Linked DNA regions of Homo sapiens: regions 2, 3 and 4 are each reported to be linked to region 1. The links are microRNA targets in miRTarBase. Many come from high-throughput screens and were not tested one by one. Region 1 holds a microRNA gene; each other region holds the end of a gene's coding sequence.
What was found. The annotated mature microRNA hsa-miR-653-5p reads GUGUUGAAACAAUCUCUACUG and lies in region 1 at 1,957-1,977, shown strand. An mRNA with a match to its seed (bases 2 to 7 or 8) in the 3' UTR can be bound and repressed. Matches are read on the target gene's strand: a 7mer-m8 pairs with bases 2 to 8, a 7mer-A1 pairs with bases 2 to 7 and ends in A, and an 8mer does both.

Region 1 (7,127 bases):
CAAAGCCAATGGTAATAACAAAGACATAAAAATTAGGTTCTTCAGAGCAGGTGTTATTGTTACTTGTTTACTTATCTATGTTCACCTATTTGCTTTGAATTTATGATATATGCAGTTTCGTTGTTTATATAATGTAAGTAGAATTACACAGTACACCAGCCAGGCATCTGATCTTACCTGGGAAAACCAGGGCTAACACTTTTTACAACAGTGTGCTTTGTCCTTTCTTATTTTGAAATGTGTAAGTAACTGAAAAGCAAAAATAATTATATACATTATCAACATTAAGGATGGTGACATGAAAATCTCATTGGTTGCATCAGTTTGTGGATTCTAGGTTTACATACTTTTTAGAGTAGTTTTGCATGTGGCAATCAATAGGAAGCTCTCCCTTCAGCACAGCAGCTTGGGTCCATACACTCAGTGGGCTTGAACTATTGCAGAGATGGACCATTTCTCAAAGTTCCATGAAGAACAGCTCTGTAACTGTCTCTGTACTTCTAGAAACTGCCTGTAACCCAAAAGCAAACTGACTGTCCTACATCACAGTAGGAATTGCATAAGCATATGACCATTTCAAATCAGATTCCTTTCCTGTGGATTCCATGATTAGTGTGGATAAAATCAAGAATGTAAGCTCTATGAGAGCAGGTGGCTTGCCAGTTTGGTTCACTGCTGAATTTCCAGAACCTAGAAGAGTGCCTGACATGTGAGAGGCACTCAAAGTATTTGTCGACTGAAAAAAACTGATGATGTTTGGGCTGCTGACTACTGCTGTTGGTGGCAGCTTGGTGGTCGTATGTGTGACGCCATTTACTTGAACCTTTAGGAGTGACATCACATATACGGCAGCTAAACTGCTACATGGGACAACAATTAAGAGTTTTGTTTGTTTGTATGTTGAAAAATCATGTAAGATGGTTTATATGCAAAGCTTTGAAAACTGATGTTTATTCAGAAAAACAATATGCCCTTAATATCTCATTTCTATCTGAATGTGAACATATAATCATATTTTTATTTAACCCCCTGAAATAAGTAGTATAGACATAACACTTATAATAAGTAGGATATTTGAAGTCTCTTACATTGTTTGGTAGTTTCATCCAATCACTACTGGTTTTATTTTGTCTCTGTATTGCTGAAAATGATACCACCTTCCCAGCAATTCTTATTTGTATAAAATTATCAGCAAAAGTTTAACATTTAATAAACTTTATGAAATTTGTATATGTGTTATTTTTAAGCAGTAGTAATTCCATGATTGTAATTATATATATATAATATACATAAAATCATACATATACATATATTTATATGTTTATATCTATCTATCTGTCTGTCTATCTATCTATCTATCTATCTATCTATCTATCTATCTATCTATCTATACAGTCAGCCCTCTGTATCCATGGGTTGTACATCCATAGATTGAACCAATCTTGGATAGAAAATATTCAGGAAAAAATTGTATTGTAAACATACAGACTATTTTTCTTTTTATTATTTCCTAAATAATACAGTATAACAACTATTTACATCATATTTACATTGTACTAGGTATAAATAATCTGGGGATGATTTAAATAATACAGGAGGATGTACATAGGTTATATGCAAATACTACACCATTTTATATGAAGGACCTAAGCATCCTCAGATTTTGGTATCCACATATGCAAATACTACACCATTTTATATGAAGTACCTAAGCATCCTCAGATTTTGGTATCCACAGGAGGTCCTGCAACCAATCCCCTGAGTATACCAAGGGATGACTGTATGTATAAACGTAATGCCCCAATGGGTATGTTATTTTAGGAAGAAGGCCACTGAGACATTCATCTACTGTTGGGAAAATTCCATCTTCAGTGCTCAAATATGAACCAGACCAGGAACTGATGCAGATTATTACTGCTCATCTGACAACAGAGGTTCTAATTTTTCATTCCTTCAGTGTTGAAACAATCTCTACTGAACCAGCTTCAAACAAGTTCACTGGAGTTTGTTTCAATATTGCAAGAATGATAAGATGGAAGCTACTTTCATCAGCATGAATTATAACTACTCGTATACAGATTGTCGTATTTCCACTGTTACTGATGTTAAAACTGCATTAAAGCAAATAAAAATATAATTGAAAATACAAGCATAGGGTTTTCTACTTGTTATCCTCGGACATACTATTTGCCTATGGTTTCCATGAATTTCCAACTAGAGCAAGAAAATCTCTTGGTTGGTTGTCAGCCATATAAAAAGAGAATTCAGAATGTTACTTTTGGGAAGAAAGCCAGATTTAAACAAAATACTTCCCAGTGTTTAGCATATCTAATACAAGTGACAGATAAGATTTATATATGACATCATGTTCCATCTTCTAATTCGATTTGAAGATGGTGAGAAAATGGTCCAGAAATTAATAATACATCAAATGATCATTCTCATATTAACTGAAGATTTTAGAGCCACAAAAGAAGAATCTAAAATAAATGTATAAGTTGAACCAATAATTAATATCTCTATTGTGAAGGCATCATGATCCATTCTTGTTTTGATGGTTGCCTAATATGTAATTGAATTTTTAAAACACACATATTCATACAAAAGTTGAGTAATAAACTAAAAAAAGAAACCTCAACATGGAATCCCTTCAAATTACTCTTTTTTAAAAATTTTGCAAATCGTGTTCCAATTCCATTAGGAATATCTAAGAATTTTATGACTGATGATTCTTTATTGTTCATAATTTCAAGTATCAGAAATATATTTTATAGTGTTGGTCCATCTTGCCAGACTGTAAGCTCTATGAGAGCACAGTCTACACTTATTTTATTCAGCACTGTATCCTCAGCATCTGGCACAATGTTGGGCTCATCAAGTTTGATCAATATTTGCTGACTGATCTGAAGACCAGTGGGGAAAGTGTCATATATCAAAAGAATTGTGTTCAGCTACACTGGTAAAGGATTTGCACAGTTATAATCATTTTTATGGGTTCATTACTTTCTCTTCTGACATAAATTCAAGAGACATTAAAATTAGAAATCAACAAAATGTTTAAAGAGTAGTGTCAACCTTATTCACAATTGGTGTCCATTTGAAGTTATCACAGTAATGTTATAATAATGATAAGTATTCACCCTCTTCTCTTTGCAAGATATTTCCACTAGGATGGCTTGCTACCATCTCCAAATCTAACCCAAAATAGGACTTACTTACCAAGGGGGAGAAGTTCCCCCTAATAAGGTTTTCCTTTCCCAGCATCTTCCCTTTCTTGGGAACTATTTTTTTCCCCAAATATCTAGGCTAATTATCTGGGCTATTTGACTATTACTGTTTCCCATTCCTTGTATTCAAATATGCCTTCATGTTTTTATTATTGAGAAGGTGCTAAGAGTGGTACTTTCTTGTTCCAACATGGACTGATCTAGTCCAGCCAGGCCTTCAACTTCCTGGCTGCCCCCACCCCACCCCGCAACTTTAACCTGTGGACATCTGATGCCTGCTGCATGAATTTTACTAAAAATTCTCCTTTCACAACCTTCACTGATCAAAAATCTACAAAACATCTTTATCATATATATTATGTTATATACCATGTTTTAACAATATTAGCTAAAATGTTTTGAACCTTTCATGTCCCTGACACTTGGTGTTTATTGTCTTGTTCATCCTCACAACATGACAGATGATAAATATTATTCTTACCGCTCTTCTTATTTTACGTTTCCTAGGTTGAGGAAACAGATCTAGTGAGAGGTTGCTAACCTGCTCAAAGTGACAAAACAAGTTTTAACTCTTTTTTTGTTATCTGAAGATTCAGATAATGCAGTCTTGAAAGCAAAGTCCTGACCTTCTTACCCTCAAATATGCTCCCCTTCAGGCAAGATGGTTTTCTCACAGTGGCTCATGCATGTCATTTCCAACCTCCAGACTTTTGTGGGAAAGGTCCCTCCATCCCAAAAGGCTTCTCGACCCCCCCTTGTGCCTATGCAGAAACTTCCCACACTCAAGATACAATTCAAATTCTACCTTGTATCTGTAGCCATCCTGAATATTTTTGCTCCCTACTCTCTCCAAACTCTGAATTTTGATTGGATTCTGTGCTGGACAGCTTAGCAGTTAGTGATGTGCTGTCGTGTAGGACATATACAATGACACACATGGAAAACAGTGAGGATTCACCATGAAGAGCCAGGAATATACATGTCAACTTAATAGGGATGAGTTTTGTTTAGAAACTAGCACATATAGAAGAGTACATAACACCACTTCTGCCATCAATACAATTGGAGAAACTTCAATCTTAGAATTGAAATTTCAACGGGTATGATAGAAATTAAGCAGCATTCCTAAATTTAGAAAAAGGAAAGTCAGTGCAGGCTGATGTTTTTAGGTCTCCTCAAAAAAAGAAAAAAAAATCTCTATGCAGAACATGGATATTAAAAATTCGCAGATTCCAACACCACTAAAAACATTGGTCATAGCCACAAAAGAAATTGAAATCTTTATAAACACAAGTTAGGAAGAACAGTGTGACAGAGTGATCTTTTCAAACACCCACATTACCTTTGAAAAAGAGAGGCTTGTGATGGTGATGATTAACTGAAACTGAAAAAAACTATTGTCAATCTGTACCAAAATGCAAATGTGCTGAGATAAATATCTAAGAAATACATTGATTTTTCATTAGTGAACATGAATTGCCCTGTACAGGTCATCTGCTGTTGAAACCAATTTAAGGAGATTATGGTCAATTATGAGGAGCAGAAAACATATTTTGTTTGTTCCATGGAATAGATGGGATAAATTTCTGGCAGTGTACACAGCACCAATAAAATTTAGCTGAAAGAATCAAATAAAAAAGCATATTTATTGAACTATGTCTATTTTTTAATAACATGATTCATGATTCTTAAGAGTAAGGCAAAGTTGATTTCATATTTGTATTTTTTGGAAATTAGATTATTTGTTTTGTTTACTTCTAAACTTTAGAATCATAATACAGTTAAAACAATCCTAGCTGATAAAGAGGTATATGAGTGTGTAGGTGTTATCCATTTTCAATAGTAAATGGAAACTAATGCAAATGTAAAATGTGCCAGTAGAATTTGTAGATGAAATGTGAAAACATTTTTTGTAATATATATGAAAAAAACTGTACATAGAGACCATGAATAAGTATTGCTTAGAGAGCAAAAATAAATGTTTTCAAACTTTTTCATTGTCTCATTTATTTGTGCTCACCCATTCCTCCTGTCTATAAGTAACTGATTTTTCTTTTTAATACAGCACCCAACCCCAATTCTTCCTGCCTTTTCAAATCAAACCTATCCAACAATAGAGCCCAAGCCATTTCTTTACGTCGTAGGACGAAAGAAGATGATGGATGCACAGTACAAATGCTATGACCGAATGCAGCAGTTACCCGCATACCAAGGAGAAGGTAAAGAGAAGGATATATATGAACATATGTTTGAAACACCATTACAGACATTTTCTTTTGTGGTTAAATATGTGTTGAATAATTTTAATTTAATATGCCAGCAGTTTTCACAGCAGTTTTCACACTATGGTATGTTTGTGTATTTCATGCAGTGCATATGCCTAATTTCTTTGCCCAAGTTCATCTGACTGCAATTTGGCTAACATCTGCCCTCATGATAAAATTACCGCAATAATTCAGTATTCACACCTGGTGAGCCGGAACAGTAAAGGACCGAGTGAGGGAGGGGATGTACAAAATGACAGGAAAGGGAATTGGAAAATAGAGGGCAGAGAATTTGCCTGAGGTGGACCCTATCAAACCCTATCTTGCTTGGATTAATTAGGTAGTATCTTCCCTTTAACTGTCAATTGGTTGGCAACCCATACTATTCTTCCACACTTTCTGGCCCCACTTTCCAGGAGAATTACAAAAAGGTACCTCCTAGCCAGACATTGTTTATCTACCAGCTTCTCTAGAATGGCTGTATGTGACTGCCCAGATATTTTCAGGTCTAAACATATTCTATTAGCTGTAGAGGACCCATAGAAAAACAAAAGGGGAGATGTGATGGGCAAGCTCATTGCAACATCCCTTTAAATTCTCCTACTTGTCCCCTGAGGCATTTGAAAAGATTCAATAAGATCTTTTACTATATATATATATATATATATATATTTAAGACAGGGTCTCACTCTCTCGCCCAGGACGATCCTCCCACTTTAGCCTCCTGAGCAGTTGGGACTACAGGTGCATGCCACCATGCCCAGCAAATTTTTGTATTTTTTTGTAGAGATGGGGTTTTGCCATGTTGTCCATGCTGGTCTCCAACTCCTGGGCTCAGGAGAGGTTCCCAAAGTGCTAGGATTACAGGCGTGAGACACTGCATCTGGCCTACTACCATGTACATTTTAAGACAACCCAACTTGGTAGGGAAAAAAATGGTAAAATATACTCTGTTACTGCACATTCTTTGCTTTCAAATAGTTCAAGTTTTAGTTTGTAGTTCTTATTTTTACCATTTTCCTTTAAACAAAAACATCAAGTCAACTGAAAGGCAGATACATATTATTCTTCTGTCTGCAGTAATTTCAGTGTTTATCAAGAACTGAACAGGCATTAGACATAACTCTGACCAAAGGAGAAACAATTTCGTTGAAGCCAGTGAGACAATAAAAACACAGAACTGATATTTTTGGGGTTTTCTGAGAGCTCTTTTCATTTTTTAAATAATTTTTGAGAGCTTTCTTGAAAGCCTGGATCTGATTCTTTTGAATACATACCTTTATAGAAGTAAATCTTCATGGTTTTAGGTAGAATTTTTTTTTTTTTTTTTTTTTTTTTTTTTTTTTTGAGAGAGGGTCTTGCAGTCTTTGGGGCATTTGCTTTTTTGATGCACTCAACTTTGGAACCTTTTACAAAGTAGAAATAGAACCCTGCTTGTCATCCAATGAGATAATTTGGTCACAGATATGCTAAGCCTATTTGAAACTTTATTTCCAAAATAAATGACTTGGCTTGTTTGAAATGTGGTTGGTTATGACTGGTGTAGTGAGCTCAGCTACTTGTAATATCGTCTTGGGATCAATCTTCTCATTTAGTTAAATCCACAAGGCTTCAATATCAATTTCCTTCTAAATGG
Region 2 (7,127 bases), not on the chromosome of region 1:
GTATATGCTGTTATGGCATCAAAAAAGACAAAACACTTTTACAGCATGATGTTCAGAATATTTGAAATTATGCTTAAATATCAATGGATTATTTTGATGATTTTTATTTATTTTTAATTTTTTATTTTTTTGAGACAGAGTCTCGCTCTGTCGCCCAGGCTGGAGTGCAATGGCACGGTCTCGGCTCACCACAACCTCCGCCTCCTGGGTTCAAACGATTCTCCTGCCTCAGCCTCCTGAGTAGCTGGGATTACAGGCACCTTCCACTACGCCCAGCTAATTTTTGTATTTTTAGTAGAGACGGGGTTTCACCATGTTGGCCAGGCTGGTCTCGAACTCCTGACCTCAGGTGATCCACCCGCCTCAGCCTCCCAAAGTGCTGGGATTACAGGCGTGAGCCACCACCGCTCCTGGCCTGTTTTGATAATTTTTCCTTCCTAAATGATGAGACTAGAGAGAAGTTAGCCTGCCACTTGCAAGCGTTCTCTTCAAAGAACACGTTGCAGGTGTGAATTCTCTTTGGCTTAAAAACCAAACTGAATATAATTTTCCTTATATTTACTCCATTTAACATTGGCATTTAGATTAAGAGTCATTCTGAGGCCTTGCCTAACATTTTTATTAGATGTATGCAAATAATGGAACCATCAGTGATCATGCGGAGGTAAACTTTCAGAATTAGTGTCTGTTAACTTGGTGTTATAACATCAAAATTCTTTATGCTTCTCATACTCAAATTCACATTGTGAAAATAAATACTTAGAATAAAAGCAATTTTAACTGTTTAATTGCTAAAACTACTTTTCCTTGCTACTGCTATGCAGCTGGATAACTATTTCCAAAATAAATCACAAGCACGCTTTTCTGATCCCTATCTGCTGTGCATGGTTACGTGATATGCAGTTGGAGGCCTGCAATGCTTTTTTTTTTTTTTTTTTTTTTTTGAGACGGAGTCTCGCTCTGTCGCCCAGGCCGGACTGCGGACTGGCAATGCTTTTTATTTTGAAAGGAGAAGCTAAATACTTTCGGATATTTTTAAAGAAAGAGCTAAAAATAACTACCATTTCTGCCTTTACAATGTGATCCCCAAAAGCCTTTCTAAACAAACAGTAGCTGGAAAATGCTGAAAATGAATAAATGGAATCCCTGTCCTTAAAGACATCCCAGCCTGGCAGAAAGATGGATAAGTAAACAACAGTGGGGTGCAGGAACTGATACTGACCATTGATGGGCACAAAGTATTATGGGAACACAGACAGCAGGCACTAACCTGCTTTAGGAATGCCTGGGATGATTTACTAAGAGAACTGCCGTGAAGGATGGCAACTTGGATCGGCCCAGAAGCCTTCCCTGGTACTCACCCAGGGCCTGATGTAGATGTCACTCGGTGGTCCCAGCAGCTTGTCACAGCTGACAGCACACTGCTTATTATTGGTTTACTTGTTCACCTTTCTCCACAAAATGGTAAGCTCCTTAAAAGTAGAAACTTTGTCATTGTATCTACAGTGCCTGCTGATGCATAAGAACTATCTGACAAGTAAATATAAGGAGTCTAGGATGATGAAAATACTTCTTCTCTAAGACGGGCTGATGTTTAAAGACAGTATTTTATGTCTGTACCATGATATGTTTAAAGAATGTGTATTCGTGTTTGAAATGCCAATACCAAATATTAGATGCAAGCACAGGGTCGGGAACCATGGGAGACAAACAAGACACAATCACTGCTCTCCAGAAACTTACAGTGTAAACTGGAGGCTTCACGGTCCCCACCAGGATCTAAACAGGCATATCTTTCATGTGTTTTTATTTTGGAGTTCCACAAAACACTTTTTTTGAATACAGAGCTCCATTTCGTTAAAAAAATTGACAACTCTGATCAAGTAAATAAGAAAGCTGCTTATAGGTAATAGAGTTTCCCCTTCCTTTTTAAGATTAGAAGGAAATTTAGATGAAAGGAATTGAGAATTTACATTTTTAGATGATGTGTTCATATTTCTTTGGATTTCATCTTAGTTTTCCCTCACCAGTTGCCTTTTAGCACCTTTCTAATAGGCAATCTGTAGCAATGTACAGATGTTTACAATAATGAAAGTGCTCATTCTTTCCTATATACTGCAATATCACGTATTTGCTACTATCCAGAAAAAGGTTCTACATATATCCTTTCTAAAGTTACTGTGAAGTATCTTCAAGAACTATACTTCATGACGGTTATTCTAAGGTGTTTAATTCAAAACCACTACCTAATTTCTCTATAGCATGTGGAATTTAACATCCCATTTTCAAAATAGAATGGTTTAAAATTAATTGACTTAAGGAGCTGCAGACCCACATACAGTGAATCTTCTATGAGGTTTACAGGAAAAATGAGCCAAAAGACATATAAGTACAGTATTCTTTATTATAAACAATCAGATAACAGTATAAGTGTGCATTTGATGGATAACCGAAGCCAAGTTATTATAATAGAAAGCATGACTTCACTCAAATAGACAGTTTCTTTGTTGTTGTTAATCTGTTTTACATTAATTTGAATTTAACATATGCTAGGATCACCTAAACTTGTCATACAGTTCTGCTATTAAAATCGTAACAGGGAAAGACAAAATGTGAAATGCATGTTATATTTTGCTTTATTTGTTGAATATATATGTGTGTGTGTGTGTATATATATATATATATATACACACTAAATATTTGGGACACAAAGTTAAGCAGGTGCTTACAGTCTATCAAGTGATATTTATGAAATGTTTTTGTTGCTGTTTTGTTGCTGTTATGGGAACATCCATATCCTTAGAAGACAATAAAAAAGAGGATTCTAAATGCTAGATGGTTGGCTAACTTCTCCTGATTTATACTGAGTGTAAAACAAAACAAAACAAAACATAAGGTATATGTGTTAAGTAGTGACATCTTTATAGTTCCAAAGCACTCGCAGCTATTAAAATATCATCTAGCTAAAACAAACTTTTCACAATTTTTTAACAGAAAAATAATAAACCAACAACAAAAACTGATCAATGTTCTGGGTCTTGTGAGCAGACCGAAATGTTACTACAGTGTTCTCTATTGTGTGATCCTTGTCCGTGGCAACCTTAAACGTGTGCTGCAGTGCTGATGTATTTATAGGCTTAGCATGTCTGCTTTATTAGTTATCCTGGAAAGAATGCTATTCAGTTTTTTTTTTAATGTCTACATCAAGGAATGAATGCTAAATGAGCCCATTTAGCAGCCTGAAATCAAATACTGCATTTATTTTTTGAAACTCTTGGTAGCAAAAGAAAAAGCTGATTAAAATATGATTGTGTTACAATGACTAAAGGGTTAACTTCTCATTAATTCTAAATTCTTCAAAATGTACAAGCATCATAATAAAGGCTTTTGATGAGACATGACTGGTGATGATCATATGTGCCAATTTAATAATTTATTTGTCACAGAAAATTCAGATTCACTGCAATATTGTGTTCTGGCTTCCCAAAGCTGCAGGGAAATACAAGTTTTTTGTTTCTTGATTTTTGTTTAGAGACAGGGTGTCACTTTGTCACCCAGGCTAGAATGAAGTTGTATGATCATAGTTCACTACAGCCCCAAACTCCTGGGCTCAGATGATCCTCCCGCCTTGGCCTCCCAAAGTGCTGGGACTATAGGAATGAGCCACTGCATCCAGATTTTTTTTTTGTTTTTAATGTCATTTATGAGCCACCAGTTTAGATTAATTCTGTAAAGGTGTAAGATTACCAGAGGAAGCCGGGCGCAGTGGCTCACGCCTGTAATCCCAGCACTTTGGGAGGCTGAGGCGGGCGGATCACAAGGTCAAGAGATAGAGACCATTCTGGCTACCATGGTGAAACCCCGTCTCTACTAAAAATATAAAAATTAGCTGGGCGTGGTAGCCTGTAGTCCCAACTACTTGGGAGGCTGAGGCAGGAGAATCACTCGAACCCGGGAGGCAGAGGTTGCAGTGAGCCAAGATCACGCCACTGCACTCTGGCCTGGTGACACAGCGAGACTCCATCTCAAAAAAAAAAAAAAAAAAAAAAAGATTACCAGAGGATAAGTTAGATAGCTGGTAGAGAGATCACGAAAGCTATGTTTGATCTCTGGAGCAAAAACTGTGTTGAAGTTCTCCCATGGAATGGTTCCCATACAAGATTCACCATATTAATGCCTTTTCTAAGAAAAGGGGACATGGAGAATTATTGGAAAACAGGGAAGAAAGGGGAGGAAAAAAAACAACTTTGAGACATGGAAGAAAAGTAGCATTTATACAAGGAATCCATTACCTGACTTTGCAGAAGAGTAAGGAAATAATTTCAAAACAGAGATAAGAAATCAATCACATTCTTTCAAGCAAAAGATGATAGATTACATTATTTTGTTTTGTTTTAAAAGTTCTGAAACATGAAGATGTCTGTACAAACAGATTCACTATTAGGTTCTCGGCTCCCTGAGGGCTGGGACTGTCTCTTATTTACATTTGATTCTACAGTACCTAACATTGTACCTGACACCCATAGGTAGGTGCACAATACATAGTTGATGAACCAATAAACTACAGATTTTTCTATACACTACATGGGCCATATATTACATTTTTCAATGTAAAATGTAATAATTCTTTTCTATGTGTATATATGAAAGTTTCTATTAGCTAACACTAGTAACTGTAAGAGGTGACAGTAGTAGCTCAATCATATATCTTTCTCACATGATCATTTCTACCTTGAATACAATTTAATTAGAAAAACTACCATGTGCACTAATGCTAGAAAGAGTTGAGATAAAATGTATAAATGAAGAAACTTCTTGGATTACTGAAGTGCTGTCTGTTACAAGCATAACTGCCATCTTAAATTGTACATTTTTAAAGAGGGTGTGAAATATTTTTCCAAGCAATGCAGTGTTTAGTGCATGGCAAGTATATATATGAAAGTACCTAGAAATTTGGGGGATTTTCCTCCCTCATCTAAAGTAAAATAAGAACAGGTTTTTAATATTGTGTATATTTTTAAAAGATGTCTTATTATTCAGTACCACTGTTCCCCAGAAATTGCAGATGATTATGAAATTATTATCACTTTCCTTGGGAATTTATTTCCAGGTTAGATAATCACTAGACACTAGGTTAAATAACTCATTGATCCAATAATGTGTCTAGATTTTCTCAAAGTCTTTACTGTTGCTTTAGTGATCTGCAAAGAGTTAATATTTGCCAAGAGGCAGGAAAACGTGGCGAAAGAGTGCCCTTCCCAGGAGACTGGAACGTGGGAAATGAGAAAGTGTAAGTCGACGTGTGATGCTTTTCTCCAACCTTTGGTTTCACCTGCTTCTTGACACAGGACTGAAACACAAGCTATTCTGGCACGCTGCGCAGACTCAAAGTTTGCAGGACTGCCTGACACGAACAACCAGCACGACAGGAACCTGGTCTCCTCTGTGGAAAGCAGGAGTCTCCCTGGGTGGCTGGCTCTTGGACCAAGTTCTGGTCTTATCTTGCAATCTGGGAAACAGCATTTCATGCTATTTTCATATTTATTTTCCCATATTAGACTCTGTTTTTACAGTGGTAGACTGAGGGAACATGACTTTTGGCTTCACAGTTTTTTTTCTTTTCCGATCACAGTTTGTTTAAAATGTACCACTGAATATGAGCACAGGAGCCCAGCTATAGGTATGTCAACCTTAGAAATAAAGTTTCTATGGCCTATCTCATTAATTCATTGTACAAGTTTGTTGTTTTTTTTTTCTTGCCAACAGCACTAAAAGTGACATCATTTAAACTGTAGGGGTTTCACTGCTTTGTTTCATCTGAGTGATATTTGCTTTAGTGCTGCTAATACCTGACTTTTGCTGTATAAACAGTTTCAATGTTTCTGTGAGGCCACACAACATGCTTTATAATGACACGGCTGACTAAAGCTGTCTTTTATTCTGCTAACACCCTTCAAATACTGTTGACAATATCGCCTCTCAAGTGTTTCCTCCCACAAAATCTGCTGCTTATAGCACAGGCACCAAAGTCCTGCTTTTCCAATTGCACTGTACTGGCATCAGGTTAACTAGAAAGCACAAAACAAACGGTGATTAAAAAAAATAAGAACAGTATACATTCTATGTATTTACACATGTTTTTAGAAACTTCAGTTGCAAATCTGAAATGATACAAGCCACTCCCTGCAATAGCCTCTATCCTATGGAAATGCAGCTTAAGACATGACTGTTAAGACACTGAAGAAATGGGGTTATGTGGAGAGCCCATCTGAGTCAGAACTTTGTCCAGCCACTGCAGTGGCCCATGAAGATGAATCTCAATCCAGCAGGGGGTGCTGGTGACATCCTGGCGATGATACTCAGCACCCCAACCCTGAAAAACAAGAAAGGAGCTGAGTGATGGTGCCACACTTACACTCAGCCTCCAGAGCCCCAGGCAGAGCTCAGCGGGGCACAGAGCCCACACCCCAGCGTAGCTCCTGAGACCTGAGAGGGAGAGAACATGGCCTCTACCTTCCTGTAAACACAGGTCAACTCTCACACCAACCAGATGCCTTCAGATGAATCCAAATCAGTGCATTCCCTCAGGGTTCACAACTGAATACTCGGATCTAGAGAGGTTCTGGCACTCCAGTCACACGGGAAGCACTGAAAAATCATTTTCCCTTCCACAAAGGAAGAAACTTGACCTTTTGTTCACCCCTTCATGCCCAGGACAGTGTCTTGCACAAAATGGTTACTGCAGACCAGTGACTGGACCTGAAAGTGGTAAAGACAGAACTGGAAGGCGCTCTTGGTTTTTCAGGGCTCATTATCAAAGCTTGCTTATTCTCTCTCTCTCTCTCTCTCTAGTTCAACTGGCAATTTCCCTTTTATCACCATTCAAAGGAGAGACAGTTAAAATTTTTTTTTTTAATTTGCATATTTTTCTCTATATGTTATATATCAATGAAAGGATATTTAAAAATGAAGGGAGATCACAGCCAAGTAAATCAGTTCTGTGACTGGGAGCAGTGATTCTCTGTAGAGTTTTTTAAAACTTGGATTTCAACACAACCATGCTGCCTGATCACATTTTACTTTCATGACTGAGAACCTCAAGTGGACCTGTGATGTCCCCGGCAGTC
Region 3 (7,127 bases), not on the chromosome of region 1:
TTACAGGAGTGAGCCACCATGCCTGGCCCAATATATTTTTCTTTATTTTTTGAGACAGGATCTCACTCTGTTGCCCAGGCGGGAGTGCAGTGGCATGATCTCGGCTCACAGCAACTCTGCCTCACAGGCTCAAGCAATTCTGCCTCAGCCTCCTGAGTAGCTGGGATTACAGGTGCATGCCACTACCACCTGGCTAATTTTTGTATTTTTAGTAGAGACGGGACTTCACCATCTTGGCCAGGCTGGTCTTGAACTCCTGACCTCAAATGATCCACCTGCCTCAGCCTCCCAGCGTGCTAGGATTACAGGTGTGAGCCACTGCACCCGACCCCAATACGTTTTATTTTTGTCCTTAGTACTGTAACACATTTGGATCCACGAAGAACCTGTTATGATGTTAATTGACTTTAGAAAACATTTTATCACAGCATGGTAATTGTGTTAGTATGTTATGTCCTAGGAGCAGTGAGTTGCCCCAACCAGAAATTTACACTCCAGAGATGGCCACCTAGCAATCCAATCGAGAAGCCCACACTTCAAAAGTGACTACTAGAAGCCCTTGTTATCCATAGCTCAATCAATGCAGACTTTGCCAATTAGCTTAATAAATGTCAAATGTGTTTCCATTGGTGACATGAACAGCTTGCTAGTAATACTAACGACGCAGACACAAGCTCTTATTTGTGAATTCAGCACTAGCACATGGATTGGCTAAAAACCAGTCACTGTCCATTCTTACAAGAGGTTTAAGAATGTAACGAGCCCTGTAACCTGTACTTGTATGCATAGTACCCACAGCTTGATCCTGTGTCCAGCCATTATTAGTACGGAGGACTGATTGCCTGATCCTGATCAGAAGGGTGACAGAATTTTGCCCCTAGTGCTTGACATAGACACCTCAAGTGGCCTTTTCATGAAAGGGTGGTCAGACCACCAAAAGGGACAGAAAGCTGGGACACTCCATTAAGGTTATAGAGCAGACTGTATAAACTGTTGTGCCACCGCTTGCTGATAAACGTTTAATAAATGATTCTGTGTGATGCACATTAGGTCTGAGCTTTGCATTCATACTAAGTGGGTAGTAGATACCATTATCTACCAAAAAGAGTCTGAGTGGTAAATGACAAAATTGGTTGTCACTGAAAAGTTAAGACTTCTGGTACTTTTGAGTTAGTCCCAAATAACATCACTCAATCATCACCTATTTATCAAAGCAATTTTATTTGATTACTTATTCCAGGCAAATAATGAGGTTCATGTGTACAACTAAGAAATCAGACAATCCAAATAAAAGGCAGGGTAAATTAATATGAACTACACAAACAGCTAGCTAGAAAGGAACAGCAGCTCCATTCATTTTACATAGTACTGTAGAGTGATGTAGCACCATTAATCTCAAAGATATCCTAAGTACTTTCTAAGATAAGTACGTGGGTCTTTGTTCAAATGTAGCAATAGCTTAAAACTTATAGCAAGCTTGATGATCATCTTATGTTCAACTAATTTCAAATATAAAAGTATATCCGAAAAATTATTTCAGAAAAAATAGGGGCTGGGCACGGTGGCTCACGCCTGTAATCCCAGAACTTTGGGAGGCCGAGGCGGGTGCATCACTGGAGGTCAGGAGTTTGAGACCAGCCTGGCCAACATGTTGAAACCCCATCTCTACAAAAATTAGCCAGGCCCACATGGTGGCGGGCGCCTGTAGTCCCAGCTACTTGGGAGGCTGAGGTAGGAGAATCGCTTGCACCTGGGAGGTGGAGGTTGCAATGAGCCAAGATTGCGCCACTGCATTCCAGCCTGGGTGACGGAGCGAGACTCCATCTTAAAAAAAAAGAAAAGAAAAAATAGACAATTTGGGGGATGACGTGACCTTATGCAATTGGAAAAAAAAAACCATTATTGAGACTGGTTTTCTTCCATCATCTGCACTATTTGCTACTATGACCAATTTAAATTCTAAGCTTTGGATGATTTAATAGGTAGTTATTTGAACACACATACAATTTTATTTATACAAAGTTTTTTTTTTTCCCTAAACTATCACTTTTATATTTATTGGTCTGTTTAGTTTGTTCTGGCCTGAACTACAAACATGGAGGAGCAAGAGAGTTTTCATGCTACAGAACTCAACATTTTGGGATCTTTAATGATTTATTCTATTTTCTACCATTTCTAATGATCATTCTAAGCTATTGTACTGTGATAATATTGGGTTGAAATTTGTTGAACTAAAGTTTGACCCTGTTAACGAATCTAAGTTATCATGAGGCCATCTGTAAATCTGAGATTAAGCATTTTTCTAAATACCGAGGACTTTACAGTTTCATTTTAGGTTATAAACTTAGAAATTCAGAATTCCAGAGTCCCTCACCAGCCCATTTTACTAGTTAGGAGCCACAGCACATTTTCAGAAATATACCACAGCAAAATCAAAAGTAGAAAATTATATAATATTCCAGGATTATTCAATCCTGGTGGTTCCTAACCCTAACTCCCATACTTTTGCCACTTCGAGAAGCTGATCTAAACTATGCACTTTCCCCAAGAAAAATGCATGTAAACTAGAACTTCTTATACACAATTATAAAGGATTCCCTAAGGGTTCATGATTCTCAAGTTAGGAATTCCTATTTCAAAGGTGTGGAACATAGTGGAAAATAAGTTTAGCCCATTTTGATATTGCCCATCTTTACCTAATTGCTACTATAGTGAAGTAAGCATTTTAATAATGCTACTAAATTGCTGCTTTAAAACAAAGCACTCATTTTAAACACTAACATAGATTTTTAAAATTCATTCTCCTGGCTGGGCACAGTAGCTTATGCCTGTAATCCCAGCACTTAGGGTGGCCGAAGCAGCCAGATCACTTGAGGTGAGGAGTTCAAGACCACCCTGGCCAACATGGTGAAATCCCATTTCTACTGAAAATACGAAAATTAGCTGGGCATGGCACAGGCCTGTAATTCCAGCTACTTGGGAGGCTGAGGCAAGAGAATCACTTGAACCCGGGAGGCAGAGGTTGCAGTGAGGTGAGATCATGCCACTGTGCTCCAGACTGGGTGACAGAGTGAAACTCTTGTCTTCATAAAAAAATAAAAAATAAAAAAATAATAATTCTCCTGTCCCAGTTTTACAAAGTTTTAAGCCATGTACCTCTATCTTGAATTGGTTAAGTCCCTAAGGTTTAAGCTAGCAGGTAATTGTTTTCCTTTCATACATATTCTCCAGAGCTACTGAAAAATGAGCAAATTAAAATGTAATGCCCTTGTGAAAATGAACATGTGTCTATATACTGAAGAACAGATTATTTGACTTCATAAAATATACTTCTAGGTATTTTTTCACACTTGAAAACAAACACGGCCGGGTGCGGTGGTTCACGCCTGTAATCCCAGCACTTTGGGACGCCGAGGCAGGTGGATCACCTGAGGTCACAAGTTCGAGACCAGCCTGGCCAACATGGTGAAACGCTGTCTGTACTAAAAATACAAAAATTAGCTGGGCGAGGTGGTGGGTGCCTGTAATCCCAGCTACTTGGGAGGCTGAGGCAAGAGAATAGCTTGAACTCGGGAGGTGAAGGTTGCAGTGAGCCGAGATTGGGCTACTGCACTCCAGCCTGGGCAACAAGAGCAAAACTCTGTCTCAAACAAAACAAAACAAAACAAAACAAAACAAAACAAACACATGTACTTAGTGCCTCTCATCATAACACAAAATCCCAGATCATACTTTCTCCTTTTTTACTTGGAACTAGTACAATGGAAGCTTCCCACCAAGTTAACGAAATGTACTCAAAGTTCTACCTACTGGTCAGGATAGAAAATATTTTATTTCTGACAAACCCCACCATCTCAAAAGTATTTTATCAACTCCTCAGTTACCAAACAGGTTGAAGAATGCTATCTTTGAGGACTCTAATGTTGACTCATTGACATGTTGAATGGGCTCCTTAATCTAAAATAAATGCCTATCCTATAGTACAAGGTTAGACTTGTTGCTTCCTTATTAAAGAAAAACTCCACTAGTCACTCCAAAGATCTATTTACATAATGGGGTAAACATGGATACAGAAGGAATTCCTAAAGATACTTTGAAGGCTGATTTAAAAGCAAAAGATATGAAATGCAGAAATGCATACACATCCAGTATATAAAATTTAATCAAATTCCTTACTAAAGCTTTCAAAAGTTGAAGTCAGGTGATAATTCTTCGGTTCTTTCATAATCATTCATTTTTGCTCAAATAGACTATTTGTAGAACAATCCCAAAACATCTGAATAAAGGGAAAGAGTCAGCTAAGACAACAGCTTTGCCAAGGAAGCTTCAACTTGGTTATGTGATTTTATTCTTATCTTTTGCTGCTATATAAAAAGGGAATAATAGAACAAACATTTTTTTCCTTGTTGTTCTTTACTTCTAAGACTCTTTTCATGTTTTCCATGGTACAAGGTAAACATTAGAATTTACATTTTGGAGACCTAAGGGGCAATGAACAGGAGTGGGACCTGGAGGATACGGCTCTCTGGCAATTCAAGAATTTCAACTCAATGGTAAAGGGCTTGCAAGAGAAAATGGACTGCTATTTCTCCACTTGCTAGATGGCATCCCGTGAGTCCTATAATACACGAGGTGTCTTCCCCACACTACTCAATGTACCATTTTGGGTTTTTCCTACTGGACCTACTAAATGCTGAGTGAAATCTAAAGAAGGTGGTAGATACTAGCATTCCTGGCTGTGTAATCTATACATTTTCATTTTAAATATAGTAATTCAAGCATAATCCATATTTAAAAAATTAGACTAAGGAGAGACAATAAAGGTTTTAAACGTTTCTCTTTGAAAAGATGGTATCTTACAGTACATACAAAAATACTCTGAAAATACATACGACTTCATTTACAAAACACTGAATCAACATATTACAAGAATTACATGGTTATGGATTTTAATAAACTGAGCATGCATTCATGAAACTTAAAAAATATTAAGAAATGCATTGAAAAAAGCAGCGTAAAAAAAGACAACTCATATAGTTAAATAAAAATTACAAAGGTCCTGAGCCAATTAATGGTTGGTAACAATGTCATTCAAAATGCCTTTAGGTTTCAATAAAATCCACTGCTTATTTCTGCATGCCTAGTCCGTGAAGAAACTATTTGAAGTTGTGGGGTAAATAATGATCAGGAATTATCATGCCAAGTTAATTTTACACCTCAAAAATACAAGTGTGCCATACTTAAAGGTTATCTTATTGTTGATGCTGGAATGAGTTGCTCCTCAGTAAAAAATACCAGTCAACTAACAAGAATGGCATGAAATAGGATATGTAACAATTTTACCATTCATATACTGACTTTCAGTATCCTGGTTATATTTTGATTTTTAATAAAGATGCATTTCAAAGGCCTCCATGGGAGGCAAAATATAGAGAATTTATGGTGCCCAACTCTTATGTAATCACTGGACTAATCTTCCCTGGTAACTATGCAACATTTGGACAGAAAGGCACACAAAAAAGTTTAAATATTTCATGTGCCAATCTGGAAAAAAATAATTTAAATCAACAGAACAGACAGTACATCTACACAAATGAGGAAAGCAGAAAAGATACCTCACATTCATTTATCTCAGGTTTCAAAGTGGCTTCAATGCTAAAGTAAATGTATTAACATTTGGAAAATACAAGACAATTTTTTTGTTTGTTTTCAATTTTTTTAGCTCTATACAATGATTACAACATAAGACAAAAAAAGAAAAACACAAAAAACAAAACAAAAAAGGAGTTCAGGACTTGTTATCAGTGTCCAAGTGGCTAAGAACTGGTTCCCATAACAAGCATTGAAAGTTAAGGCAGTAAAACCCCCAAATGCAAAGCTGTAATACTGTAGATGGCAATTTGACAGCAGGTGATCCTCAGAGAAGTGTATGTAGCAATCAGTGAGAGAATGCTACAGCATCTACAGGTCAAAGTTTGACAGTTCAAAAACCACTTCAAGGTTATTAGACTGAAGGCTGTCACTTTCACCTTATTTCACGTATGACAGCCACTTCTATTTAAAAAACAAGTGGCTGCATCTATGCCACTAAATGATTGCTTGTTCACTTAAGTGAGGAGGCACTGCTTTTACCGATTAAGGGTCAGTCGAATGGAATTTTTGATGACACGGATGTTGTTTGCTGGAACTGGAGATGATGAATCTGGTAGTTCTTTACTGGGTAGTCTCTATTAGAAAGAAAGAGGAAACAAAAAAGGAAAAGCACATCATATATATTATAAAGGCCCAGCTAGAAAGTCAGTCACAAAACTTGGGGAGTTTTTCTCCCAAACCCTCTAGCTCCTAAACACTCAAGTATGCAATGAATATTTCCTTCCGTGTTCATAGGGAACTCTTGCTTTCGGAACTGCTACTTCTTTTTACAGTCAGAGGTGAAAAGCAGAGGGATAAGAGAAAGGGTAGAAGTGGCAGGAGTGTGAATATGTACAGGAAAAGAGGAACTGCCATGCCTGGATCAAGAAATGCATAAAGAACACAGTCCTTAAGGTCAAGCAAAGAAAAAAAAAAGGAAGTTCATGGTGACTAAACAGGAAGCTCTTGGGGTGTGAAGTGAAAAATGAGTGTGTGCAGTAGAGAAAAATTTAATATCTGAGAGTTATGTCCCTCAATTTGTTTCTGTAATACATTCATGAAGAAGACCACTGACTCAATCTGTGAGATACTTAAGTTCTCAGGAAAACTGAACTTTGTACTTAGGCTAGATAACTTTGATGGTTATGAAATTCAGGGACATCGGTTTGAGGGATTCTGAGGGCATTAAAGATTATTACATAAAGAAGGCAAAATCTAGGGCCGGGCATGGTGGTTCACGCCTGTAATCCCAGAACTTTGGGAGGCCAAGGCGGGCGAATCACTTGAGGTCAGGAGTTCAAGAGCAGCCTGGCCAATATGGTGAAACCCTTTTCCACTACAAATACAAAAATTAGCCACTACAAATACAAAAAGATCGCGCCATTGCACTCCAACCTGGGCTACAGAGCGAGCCTCCATGTCCAAAAAAAAAAAAAAAAAAAAAAAAAAGGAAGGCAAAATCTAGACTTCTGTAATGGGGATAGTTTCTTGTCAAG
Region 4 (7,127 bases), not on the chromosome of region 1:
CCTCTGCCTCCCAAAGTGCTGGGATTACAGGCATGAACCCAGTGCTCCTGGCCTGCTTGTGTGTGTTGATCTTCCTCATTGGATACAAACTCCTGGAGGCCCAGGAACCATCTCTTTCTCCCTTGCTGTTCCTTGGACCCTCTGTGTGCCCAGGACTGACATGGGCCGACCTGTCTCTGACGAGCAGTGAGTCGACCCTCCATCAAGCTGCCCGTAGCTCACTAATATGTATGCTGCACCCTCCCAAAATGAAAATTACATCGAAAGTTGTAATATATATATATATATATATATATGATATAAGCACACAGATTTTTTAAAAAGCCAATTGAAATGGAAAATTAAGAAAGATGACTCTAGATACTTAAAAAGTCACAAGCACAGCCCATTAATTTCTTCACATTTTCCTTCTCCCTCATGAAGCAGAAAACTCTATCAGAGAAGCAAAGCTTTAAAAATACAATTCTTGCTAGCCTGGAGCAGAAAATACTAATACAAGCACTTAAAAAATGTGTACAGCAAATCTGGGTGACTTCAGTTTCCTTAGGACAAGCTCTTTTTTCTTTAATAAAGGGAAAACATTACATCTTTATTTTCATTAACCTGAACATTGGCGCTTCCTTCAAGAATGCACCTAGGCAAGGAACCTCTCTAATATTAGGAGTTCCCGTAATGTGCCAAACATAGAAATCTCTGATATTTTTATTTCCATCAATGCTTTTGCAGGTATCTAAATGCTCATCACTATTTTGAGTTTCCGGGGGATGTAAGATTAACTACTAGATTGTGTTATTTAATGCATAAAGAAGTATATATATTACACCACAATTTCTAAAAATTGTTGGTAATTGTATGTAAACATAATTGCTTTCATCTGTGATCTCAGGGTTTTTATGTGTATTTCCATAATACTGAGGAGTTTATAGCCTTTCTCAAACTGCCAGAGGTGTTGACCTATGGCACAGAAAGAGCTAAGTTGCTCATTTCAATCTATTTTACATAAAGCCAAATTTTATTGCAGCATAAATCATGGACCAAACTGACAATGTTTCCCTCATGCCAGAAAATGATTCATTAAGGAATATAATGGTTCTTGGTATACACTTCATTGAGCTCCATCCCTGCAAGCTTCCTCTTTGACCTCTTAAAATCCAAGCTGGTTTTGATGCATTCATTGGTGGACAACTTTTCGCACATCTCTTACATTGGTTGTAAACATAGCATGAAGCCCATTCTATTCAGTCCAATAGCCAAAGCCATCTTATTTGGAGATGCATTTCTATTGCAGAGATAGGAACAATTCCTTCAAGAAACCAGTATTGACTGTGCTAGGCTCTTGGGATTCAGAGATGAGCCAAGACAAGGTCACTGTCCTCAAGGAGCTCAGTGTGTGACTCTGCCAGGTGGGGAAGGAAAGGTGCCACAGCCTGGACACAGCTTAGACCAACACAGGGAGGTTTACAAAAAGATGGTCAAGGGAGTGCTGGAGGAAGTCCGTGTGTGCGAGGACATAGCAAAGGGGGTGAGCCCAGAGTTGACCACACAGAAGGATGCAGGAAGGGCTCCTGTGAAAGGAGTCCTTTGTCCTATGGATAGGGGAGGACAGAATTGGAGGGAGGACCAGGGGGAGGGTGTTGGAGTAGCTTGGTCAAAAAGAAAGAGGATGAGCATCCAGGAAAAAAAAGTCTTAATTCTGGTCATGGCAGTAGGAATGGTTGTGAAACCTATGAGTTGCTGGAATCTGGACCACTGATGGGGAAAGGTCCCAGGACCGAGTCTGAGCTTGGGCACTACTGTGGGGTGATGGATACTCAGAGGGGCTGGGGGCTGGAGGATTACAAAATAACTGACTTGACACATGCCCCAAGTGACTTGACAGAAAGATGGCCAGGTGCAGATCAAGGCAAGAATTAATCAGGGACAAAATTTTCCTTTCGTCGAGAAGTCAGAGCCTAACTCTTTTCTAACTAAATCTTTTCTCCTGAATGAGGTCCTAAAGAACATCTACAAATACCATAATGTTATGTTAATTATCATTCTCAACAACATCAATGTCAAAATCAGTATCAATGAAAAACTGGAGGTTTAACTGAACTGCTTGGCCTGGCCTCGGAGTATTAGGGAGAAAAGCCATTTATATTCAGACTGGTACTGACCAATTGTGAACACATTTAGGCCAAGAAAAAATAGTGTGGAAGGGGTGTTCTTGTTGCTGGAAATAATCTGGCTGTGACCATCTCACACCAGTTAGAATGGTGATCATTAAAAAGTCAGGAAACAACAGGTGCTGGAGAGGATGTGGAGAAATAGGAACACTTTTACACCGTTGGTGGAACTGTAAACTAGTTCAAGCATTGTGGAAGACAGTGTGGCGATTCCTCAGGGATCTAGAACTAGAAATACCATTTGACCCAGCCATCCCATTACTGGGTATATACCCAAAGGATTATAAATCATGCTGCTATAAAGACACATGAACACGTATGTTTATTGCAGCACTATTCACAATAGCAAAGACTTGGAACCAACCCAAATGTCCAACAATGATAGACTGGATTAAGAAAATGTGGCACATATACACCATGGAATACTATGCAGCCGTAAAAAATGATGAGTTCATGTCCTTTGTAGGGACATGGATGAAGCTGGAAACTATCATTCTCAGCAAACTGTTGCAAGGACAAAAAACCAAACATCGCATGTTCTCACTCATAGGTGGGAATTGAACAATGAGAACACATGGACACAGGAAGGGGAACATCACACACTGGGGCCTGTTGTGGAGTGGGGGGAGGGGGGAGGGATAGCATTAGGAGATATACCTAATGTAAATGACAAGTTAATGGGTGCAGCACACCAACATGGCACATGTATACATATGTAACAAACCTGCACGTTGTGCACATGTACCCTAGAACTTAAAGTATAAAAACAAAAACAAAAAAAAAAACAAGACAGCATCTTTAACTTGGTTGCACCATCGACAATGAATAACACGGTTCTAAGCTTCAGTTTCCTTCTCTGAAAATAGGAATAATAATAAAATTAATAATAATATTTTAAAAAAATAATAATCCAGCTGTGGTAGGGATGTTTCCCAGTTAAGAACAAGCTGCATTCCCCGCCAGCTTGTGGATTACAGTGATCATCTGGGTCTAAAAGCAACACCAGCCACTGTAACAGCTAACTCACCTTCTCGGTGGCCAATCATAGTTTTATCTCTCTAGATACCGTGTGACAGACACTTTGCTGAACAGAGCTTACTGGGGGTCCCTAAGGGATCTGGGGTCCTTCTATCTGCCCCTGCCTCACCTTTAGGGACTTGGAGTTCCTCCTGATCAGTTGGAAGAAGGGAGGATTTCTGGAAGGTTCCTGTGAGCCAGACTCAACAGCAGGCGGCCCATAGCATTCTGGTTCCCATCTCCTAGCTGGACCGCACCTGACTGCAAGGGAGATGGGGAAAGACAGCCCAGTCGCTGGCTCAGGAAGAGGATGGGTCTTGGGGGAACATGGCAGTCCATCAGAAGAGCTTTCTCCTTTTAAGAATTGCCTTCCTCCACCCTGGCTTTGCTTTGTGTTGGGCGGAGGGCACCAAGATAGATTAAACCTGATTCGTGCACTGTTCTTCCCAAGCAGGCTACGCCCAAAGGGCCAGGCATGGAGCAGGGTGGTGAGTGAATTGTGCCTCTCAAAAAGACGTGTCCAAGTCCTAAACCCCGCTGTGAATGTGACCCTACTTAGAAACAGGGTCATCATAGGTGTGATCAAGTTAAGATGAGGTCTTGATGGATTAGGGTGGGCTCTAAATCCTATGACTGGTGTCCTTAGAGAGAGATTTAGTCACAGACATGGAGAACAAGCGACCATGTGATACCTTGATTTCAGACATCTGGCCTCAAAAACGGTGACAGCACACATTTCTGTTGTCCTTAGCCATGCAGGGCACTTTGTTACGGCAGTCCTGAGTTAAGGTCCCTGCCTCTCTTATTGGCTGTGTAAATTATGGGACCACATTGAGCCCTGTCCTTAACTGCAAAATGGGTATGAGGACCCAGCTGGTAGGTGATGCATGGTGGAATTAACACAGGTACAAGCGGTGGAAAGCATCCAGGTAACAGAGGGCTTGTGCTCACTCCACAAGTCCCAGCCACGTGGAGGGTTTAGCCTCTCCTTGCCCCACGTACCGTGTCGTCGATGCTGCCGACACACTGGTCCCCAGGGCTGGTCTGTTGGTGGTCTAGCTGGCTCCCACTCAGCCTTCAAGCCTTTCATCAAAGTCATGTTCCCAAGAAAGATTTCCATTAGCCCCATTCCTCCCCCTACCTCCAGGTGGAGCTGGTCTCCATTAGGAGTCCTTCACTCCTTTCTCCCCCACAACACGGTCTTCCTAAAGCACGGTCTGCCCTTGTTTGCCACAATCAGCACTTCAAGGCTGACACCTGACACACAGAAATGACTCCATCCTAAACTTTCTATTTCGGGACTGGGGTTGCCAATTCATGGGACCCAGAAAACAGCAAGTCATCGATGTGCTTTCCTTTGGGTGCCTGGTATAACACCAATTCCCATTTGGTTAGTGGTGACTGAGTGACTCGTGTTTCAAGAGCAAATTAAATGAATAGCAAGAAAATAGACACCTGCCACACCAGCTGTCCTACTGTCATCTAGGGGTGACTATTTTGGGGAGGCAGCCATTGGTGTATGTATAAATACGTACATTAGGTTTCATGTTTGTTTTATTTAAAGTCTGGTTGGGTACAGAAAACACACACACACTTAACAGGTTAAAATATCCAAATAAAATTTACTGCAACTTTTGTAGAATTTTATTTGTGCTACAAGACACGTTGCATAGGAAACTATTTAAAGCCCCTGAGGAAAAAATATCCATGGTTTAAGGTGCAACTGGTTTTGTTTCTTCTTTGGGGAAAAGGTGATAGATGGTCTCTGGGAGAAATTATGGGGTGGAGTTGAGAAGCACAATCGAAGGTTATATGGTGGGATGATTGGCGAATTGTGTGTCCTGGTTCTTGCAGCATAAAATAGCTAATGTTTGTTCTTTTTTTCAGTCCGTTGGTCTTCAGTATCTGAATAAGTAGCTATACAACGTTTCAGGCCAGTAAGGGAGTATACATTGATTATACTAAGGAAGTAACATGTTTCAAGAAAGCAGTTTTAGAGAATGAGATTCGGGATCCCAAATGGTCCCTGACAACTGCAGGCACACAGGAAGTGTCCTGGCACGTTGCTAAGGATCACCTCACTCTACTGATTTGCCAGTATCAGTCCTTCCTCCTGCTCCCTTCCAACACGCGACATCTACGACGCATTGTGAGATTCACACAGCATGTCTGCACCCTAAAGTTATTAATGCAACACTGTGTCAAGTTCCTGATTTTATGTGAGTCACATTTTCATTTTTACAAAATGCTCATCTTGCTCAGATGATCTTTACATTGTACAAAAAATGGTTTCATCTAAACTATGACTTCCTTCCGAGGAGACACAGGTACACCAGGAAGGAAGAGGGGTTAAGCCTTAGATGAAATGAAATGCAGAGTTTGGCAAATGGCAGCTGGCACCTCTGCACATCAGCATAAGGCGTTGCTTGTGAGGCCAACCACAGCATCTGCAATAAGCACGAGAGTCAGTGGCCACCAAGGCTCTGATTCGGTCATGAAGTTTTCTTCCTGTCCACAGAAGAGGCAGCAAACTCTATGGGAAGCACTGCTTTGACCTCAAGGAAAAAACAGTACAATGGCCTCGTAGCAGCAGGGACCACCTCACTCTCAAATGGCATTGTTCTTGTCAATGACTAATTGCACACTGGCAGGGGCCCTAAAGACTGTCAACTCATGGCTGCTTTCTAATCTATTGGCAGAAACAGCTCAGGGCACCTAAATGCTAATGCGGGACTTCACTCTGCCCACTGAAGCTCACCAAAGATTCACATATTCTATGGATGGTCATTTACTACGAGTGAGGCAAAGCACGGAAGACAATCAAATCCGAGGAGGGAGCAGGACCTGGGGCCTTCTCAGAAAGAATGAGCTGTACCCGTTTACTGAAAAGCCACTTTTTCCCACGTGATTCACCTTCTTACACGCAGGGAGTGAAAGAGGTCCAACAACCGAACGAGCATCTTTCCGGGCTGAGTGTTGAAATGCAAAGTGTGGCCGGGAATCAGAAACGCTCCCAGTGACCTTTAAATACCTATATACATCTCTAACATAATTTAAAAAGGTCTATAACAACATAAAAACCTCAACAGCCTGTGCCCCTATTTTCTTTTAAACCTTTATGGTCCATAAAAAAATTAGATACCACCTTTCTCATAGATCCCTTCCCCCCATTCGTTAAAAAAGTGATTTTAAATTTAAATTTATACTTAACAAATAGAAAGCTATGTGATTGGCAACGAGCTGCAGTAGGCAGTCCCTTCAGGCCTCTCCCTCGATGGAGGAGGGCGGCGCATGATGGGTGTAGCCTAGCTGGCGGGCCCTAAATCTGTCTGAGCAGCCGCCCCTTCCTCCCTCTTCAGCTCCGCGGTGACAGCAGGGCACGCAGGGCAGAAGAGGGCTTGCACTCCAGAGCAGCAGGAGGGGAGGGGACCCATTCAAATCACGAAGTCGTCCTGGTCCGCAGGGCTGAAGGCGGCTGCTCTCAGAACGTCCAGGGAGTTCACCAAGATCAGAGTCCCAGTGAGGTGCTTCCAGCGCTTGGTGATGGGGTTTTTCATCTTGTCCAGGCCCAGGTGCAGCTCCTGGATGACATCCCGGTAGCTGTCCCCGATCTGATGGCTCCAGGTGAGTAAGAAGTCATACGCAGGCTTCCACATGGCCTGGGAGGTGGAGTTGTAAAAAACAAAAGGAGGGAGAGAGGAAGAAAGATTAGGAGACAGAACGAGATTTGTTCCTATTACTTGGTGCAGCTTCAGTAGTCACTATTTGGGACACTCTTTCACGAGTGAGACAAGCCCACAGAAGAAACAGTGGAACCATCTCGGGGCCAGGGTCAGCACATTCCAGAGGGAAAAGCAGGGCTTTGTGCAAGAGTAGGTGCGCAACAAATGAATAAACAGAAAGGACTTCTCTTTCCTTACAATCTTTATGGCACTTTCTCTCTGT

Region 2: the mRNA of SMAD9 is a reported target of hsa-miR-653-5p. Seed matches in the 3' UTR shown: 7mer-m8 at 4,125-4,131 and 8mer at 2,641-2,648.
Region 3: the mRNA of PAPOLG is a reported target of hsa-miR-653-5p. Seed matches in the 3' UTR shown: 7mer-A1 at 5,256-5,262, 7mer-m8 at 3,938-3,944, 8mer at 2,224-2,231 and 7mer-m8 at 1,650-1,656.
Region 4: miRTarBase lists SH3BP4 as a target of hsa-miR-653-5p. Seed matches in the 3' UTR shown: 7mer-m8 at 6,157-6,163.

What each region holds. Positions count from the first base shown.
Region 1 is chr7:93,477,673-93,484,799 of GRCh38, reverse strand. It overlaps MIR653 (microRNA 653), which reads left to right and starts at 1,945; the gene lies at 1,945-2,040. It overlaps CALCR (calcitonin receptor), which reads left to right. Exons shown (of 14, transcript NM_001742.4): 4 at 5,293-5,446. MIR489 (microRNA 489) reads left to right here and starts at 781; the gene lies at 781-864.
Region 2 is chr13:36,842,447-36,849,573 of GRCh38, forward strand. SMAD9 (SMAD family member 9) reads right to left here. Exons shown (of 7, transcript NM_001127217.3): 7 at 2,385-6,373. The coding sequence ends at 6,230. Among named protein-coding and RNA genes, the nearest start is that of RFXAP, 27 kb to the left of the region's middle.
Region 3 is chr2:60,796,162-60,803,288 of GRCh38, reverse strand. PAPOLG (poly(A) polymerase gamma) reads right to left here. Exons shown (of 22, transcript NM_022894.4): 22 at 1,203-6,227. The coding sequence ends at 6,129. Among named protein-coding and RNA genes, the nearest start is that of PAPOLG, 43 kb to the right of the region's middle.
Region 4 is chr2:235,053,306-235,060,432 of GRCh38, reverse strand. SH3BP4 (SH3 domain binding protein 4) reads right to left here. Exons shown (of 6, transcript NM_014521.3): 6 at 4,719-6,841. The coding sequence ends at 6,617. Among named protein-coding and RNA genes, the nearest start is that of SH3BP4, 100 kb to the right of the region's middle. RefSeq lists a silencer at 4,274-4,568.